Linked DNA regions of Homo sapiens: region 2 is linked to region 1. The links come from fine-mapping of genetic effects on gene expression. A gene starts in region 1. The other region holds a variant in brackets. All regions are shown on one strand. Distances are from middle to middle. Region 1 holds the start of NXNL2 (nucleoredoxin like 2). Region 2 has its middle 40 kb from the start of NXNL2.

What was found.
Region 2: its variant is fine-mapped to the expression of NXNL2 in prefrontal cortex (BrainSeq, PIP 0.92).

Annotation. Positions count from the first base shown.
Region 1 is chr9:88,533,908-88,536,813 of GRCh38, reverse strand. NXNL2 (nucleoredoxin like 2) reads right to left here and starts at 1,636. Exons shown (of 2, transcript NM_001161625.2): 1 at 1,078-1,636. The coding sequence starts at 1,379. LOC105376134 (a long non-coding RNA gene) reads left to right here and starts at 2,274. Exons shown (of 2, transcript XR_007061653.1): 1 at 2,274-2,800. RefSeq lists enhancers at 182-1,015, 1,016-1,850.
Region 2 is chr9:88,573,792-88,576,697 of GRCh38, reverse strand. It overlaps a transcript of NXNL2 not described here. Among named protein-coding and RNA genes, the nearest start is that of NXNL2, 40 kb to the right of the region's middle. The variant G/A (reference allele first, on the strand shown) is at 1,536.

The sequences.
Region 1 (2,906 bases):
CTGGAAGGCTGGGCGGTGCCCTGCCTGGGCCTCCTCTTTCACTGGGAATCACCAAAAATCATGTTTGGGGGAATAATTAGATTTCTTCCCATTAATTACTCATCTACAAAACTTTCCAAAGTTAGCTTCCAGTTTTCATTTTCCAGAAGGAATGTCATCTCATGATAATCAGTTTAGGGGGTAATGCCACAACTTAATGATAATCTCCAGAAATGTGAGGCTGTAAAGCAAAACCCAGAAATTCACATTGGTACCTAGAAGGGGGTGGCCAGGACAACATACTTGACGAGGCCTGCTTTAAACCTAAGTCTGGACTCTTACACCATAGGAGACCACAGGAGACCCACCCCAAAAGCAGAACAATCAATCCCTGTAATCCCCTCTCTGCCAATCCCTACCCCCTCCTTTGCAACAGTTAGAGTAATAAAGTTTATAGTAATGAGTTTTATGCTTCTCTAGTGATGAAATTCCATCAGTGTCGGTAAAAATGAAACCGCAAAGGTGGCCAGCACCTGGGTTCCTGCCAGCCTTGAAGCCCCCGTCCCTCCCTCCCAGCAAACCAACCACGGCCTGCACTGTGGGTGCCTGTCACAGAGCTGATGTCCTCGCGGGTCATCCCTCATCCCCGCATCCAGACACCGGGTCATGTCCCTGTGCTTCCTGCCCACTAACTGGGAGGATGACGCAGCGGCGCCGGGAGTCCAGGGCTGATTGGGCCGGCGGTTCCCGGAGCCGAGCCCGCGAACTCACAGCATCACCACCACTGGGAGCTCCTTCGCAATGCAGATTCCCGGAGCTCCAGACCCCAGGCAGAAACGCGCCCGCGTCCATGCTCCACGAGCCCCCTTGGGGTGCCGATGCCCTGGGTTTTCGAATCTGGTCTGCACCCTCCCTGGTCTCCAAGAGAGGTTGAAACTGAGACTGAGTGTGATTTACCGGAGTCCGGACGTGAACCGAGAGACGGGGAGGTGTTGGGGGGGGGCGTCATAAAGAGCTCCCCAGTGCAGAGGGGGAGGCCTGGGGGAACATGGGGGAGACGTGCCGGGCGGCCCCCGCCCCCCCAGGACCCCCACTCACTGCCGGTAGGGGTCGTGGAAGGGCAGCGCCAGCCAGGCGCCATGCAGCTCGCGCATGAAGTCCAGCATCTCCTGGGAGCTGCCGTCGGCTGACACGAAGACCACTTCGAAGGGCGCGGGCCGCCGCGCCTCGGCCACCAGCGCCGTATAGAAGTCGCAGAGCAGCGGCGTGAAGTCGCGGCTCGGCGCGCACCGGGCCGCCGCGAAGTACAGTGCCACCACCTTGTTCTGCAGCGCCGCCTCGGCCTCCACCGTCGCGCCCTTACAGGTCACCAGGTGCCGCTCGCCCAGAATGTCAACCATGGCGCAGACACGCAGCCACCTGAGACCCGAGGACACCTGCAGGAGGATGATCACCTGCGGGGAGGCGGCGGCGAGCGCCGCGGTGCCCCGCCTCTGTCCGCACCACCGGGCGCTGGACCTCTCAAGACCTGCCCCAGATGCGCCCACACCTTGGCCAGGCCTCGCCTGTGGCTGGAGCAATTGTGTTCGCGCCGACAATGAGACACTCAGACACCAGAGACCCCAGATACCTGGGCGACAGCGCGGCACCCGCCTCTGGGAGCGGGGCCAGCCAGGCAACCTCAAGCCCTCAGGTCTCTGCACCCTCCCCCAACTGCGCCCCGCCCACACTCCTGCGCCCTCCCACCACTGCGCCCCGCCCACATTCCCCGCAAGCTCCCCAACTGCGCCCCGCCCACATTCCGCACTCTCCACCCACTGCGCCCCGCCCACATCCCGCACTCTCCACCCACTGCGCCCCGCCCACATCCCCGCCCCCGCCCCCACTGCGCCTCGCCCGCATCCCCACACTGTCCCCCACTGCGCTGGGCCCACATCCCTACACTCTCCACCCACTGCGCCCCGCCCACATCTCCGCACCCTCCCCCACCGCACCCCGCCCACATCCCCGCACTCTCCTCCAACTGCGCCTCGCCCACATTCCACAGTTTCCCCTCACTGCGCCCCGCCCACATCCCCGCACTCTTCTCCAACTGCGCCTCGCCCACATTCCACAGTTTCCCCTCACTGCGCCCCGCGCACACTCCCGCTCCCTCCCCCACTGCGCCCCGCCCACACTCCCGCGCCCTCCCCCTCACTGCGGCCCGCCGACATCCCGCGCCCCCGCCCCCATCCCGACTGCGCCCCGCCCACCTCCCGCGCCCTCTCCCACTGGTTGTCCAGCCCACATCCTGCACTCCCTCCACTGCGCCCCGCTCACACTCCCGCACCCTCCCCACACTGCGCCCTGCCCACACTCCTGCACTCTCTCCCCACTACGCCCCCTACCACATCCCGCGCCCCCGCCCCCATCCCCACTGCGCCCCGCCCACACTCCCGCGCCCTCGCGCCCCTGGGCTCTCCCGTCGTGGGCACTCTCCCCAGCGCTTCTACACTTTCTCCCGACGCAGCGCCCTGCCCTCCGTCCCGCCCCACCTATTGCCTCCTGCGCTTCCCCCACACCGTGCTCTTCCTCCTCCTTCACTTCCTCCCACTCCTCGCGCTCCCCTTCAGCGCCCCACGCAGCCCCTCCCCCAAAACCCCGCGTCGCTCTCCTTCCCTCCTGGCCTCTCTTCCAGTCTCGCGCTCCCTGCCGGGCCCCGCCGCAGGTGTCCCGCAGCCGTCTCCCCAGGGCATTTGAATCTTGCCTTGGAGCTCTTGCCGCGCGGCCCAGCACCCTGGAAGAGGCATCAGGGAGGATGGGACGACGAGGAAGGGGAAGGGTAATTGGGCTTGGAGCGGGCTTGGGCGGGGTGGTAGGGAACCTGAGCTCCGTTGGTTCAGGGTGTTTGCCCCTGACATCCTGTGGCCTGGCTGGGAGGGTTCGTG
Region 2 (2,906 bases), 40 kb before region 1:
AGAAGGGAGCAGTCCCAGCCAAGAAGACACAAGTTGTCCTTCTAGGCTTGTGGGCCCCGAGGAATAGCTGCCCCTCCCGCACCTCCATTGGCCATTCTCCCTCTTCCCCTTCTCCCCTCAGGAGAGCAGACATGTCTCCCTTGTCACCTGCTAGCAAACTGGAAGTCTCTCTCCCTCCTTCAGCAAGCACCCCTGGGAGACTTTATCTTCAGCAGACAAGGTCTTTGCTCACCCTGCACGGGGAGAATTCAAGAGGCCTTGGACATCACGAGGAAACCTGGCCCACGTGGGAGCTGGGGGTCTAGGGCCACCACATAAGTGTGAGTCCCCAACGTGAGAAAGAAGCAGCCACCTGTTGAACCAGGTATAAAAGGAGTCGAGAAACCTTGAGAAGTCTAGGTCCATCGCTGTGGGTTCACATGTCGGGAGAGTCAGGCGCATTGGGTTTTTGTTTGTGGTTTTCAATATTTTGTTTGTTTGTTTGTTTGTTTTGTTTTCTTTTTGAGACGGAGTCTCGCTCCATCGCCCAGGCTGGAGTGCAGTGGCACAATCTCGGCTCACTGTAACCTCTGTCTCCTGGGCTCAAGCAATTCTCCTGCTTCAGCCTCCCAAGTAGCTGGGATTACAGGTGCCCACCACCACACCCAACTAATCTTTTGTATTTTTTAGTAGAGACGGGATTTCACCATGTTGGCCAGGCTGATCTCGAACTCCTGACCTCGTGATTCACCTGCCTCAGTCTCCCAAAGTGCTGGGATTACAGGTATGAGCCACCGTGCCTGGCCTAATTTTTTTATTTTTAATTTTTGTGGGTACATAGTAGGTGTGTATATTTATGGGGTACATGAGATGTTTTGATACAGGCATGCAATGCATAATAATCACATAATGAAGAATCGGAGTATTCATCCCCTCAAGCATTTATCTTTTGTGTTACAAACAATGCAATTATAGTTATTTTTAAATGTACAATTAAATGATTATTGACAGTAGTCACACTGTTGTGCTATCAAATATTAGGTCTTATTTATTCTTTGTATTTTTTTGTACCTATTAACCATTCCCACCTTCCTCCCAACCCCACTTTCCTTTCCAGCTTCTGGTAACCAACCTTCTACTCTCTATGTCCAAGAGTTCAATTGTTTTGATCATTAGATCCCACAAATAAGTGAGAACATGTGATGTTTGTCTTTCTGTGCCTGGCTTATTTCACTTCACATAAGGGCCTCCTTTTCCATCTATATTATTGCAAATGACAGAATCTCATTTTTTTAATGGCTGAAGAGTACTCCATTGTGTATATGTACCACGTTTTCTTTATCCATTCATCTGTTGATGGACACTTAGGTTGCTTCCAAATCTTGGCTGTTGTGAACAGTGCTGCAATAAACATGGGGGTGCAGATACCTCTTCAATATACTGGCTTCCTTTTCCTTTCTTTCGGGTATATACCCAGCAGCAGGATTGCTGAGTCACATGGTCACAGCACATTGTTAATGAGCACAGACTCGCAGAATGCAGGACACGGATGGTGC[G/A]GGGGGAGAACAGCTGCACTCTCGGAGTGTCCAACTCCTCTTCAATATCTTTCCCTCACGTAATTCACAGCAATGGCTTCAAAGGAATAAGAAGGGGAGGGTGAGCTTAGTGCCAGATCTTTTAATGACCTCCTCTTAAGCTTAAAAATGCAGTTGCAAAATCAAAGAGTCCTACAAAAAGAAATTATTTAAAGTAAGTTATGCAACGTGTGCCCTTTGGAAAAACAGCAATGTCCTTAGAGTTATGCCCCCAGGATGGTGGGGACAGGCCCTACATCTGCAAACACATGTGCTCAGACCACCTGGCCCCTGCCAGGATCCCCCGCCCCTGGCCGTCTGCAAGTTTCCAGTCTTCGCAAAAATCCATTCGAGTCTGGAAAACATTCCTCTCCCCAACAAGCTGGCTCCTTCCCTCTATTCAGATCAGCTAAAAATCCTCTTCCTAAGGATCCAGCCCCAAATATGCTGTATAAGGAAGTCCCCACCTCAAAATCTCCACTGCCCTATTTCTTACTGAAATTCCTGTGGACAAAGGACAGACAGAGCTCAACATCATCTCTCTGCACACTGACATAAATGCATATCTAATTGCTTCCTTTGGAACAACTAATCAGAAACTCAAAAGAATGCAATCATTTGTCTCTTATCTACCTATGACTTGGAAGCCCCCTCCTTGCTTCGAGTTGTCCCTCCTTTCTGGACCAAACCAATGTACATCTTACATATATTGATTGATGTCTCATGTCTCCCTAAAATGTATAAAACTAAGCTGTGCCCTGACCACCTTGGGCATATGTCATCGGGACCTCCTGAGGCTGTGTCACAGGCATGTCCTTAACCTTGGCAAAATAAACTTCCTAAATTGATCAAGACTTGTATCGGATACTCTTTGGTTTACAGTATGGTACCACATTTGTGTATCCATTCATCAATTGACAGACATATGGGTTGCTTCCAGTGTTTGACAATGGTGAATAATACTGCTATGAACATTTGTGTATATGCCTTTCTGGGGCATATGTTTTCAGTTCTCTTGGGTGTATATATATATGAGTGGAATTGCTAGACCATATGAAAACATTTAACTTTTTAAAGAAACCACTAAACTGTTTTACAAAGAGGCTGCACCATGTTACAATCCCAGCAGGAATACAGATGTTCCAGAGGCTCCACATCCTCACCAATACTTGTTATTAACAGTCTTTCTCATTCTATCCATGCTAGTGGCAGGGAGGTGGTATCTCACGGTGCCTTTGATTTGCATTCATTTGATAACTACTAACGTTTAGCACTTCTTCACATACTTTTTGACCACTTGTGTATTTTCTTTGGAGAACTGTCTATACAGATCTTTTTTAAAATTGTGGCAAA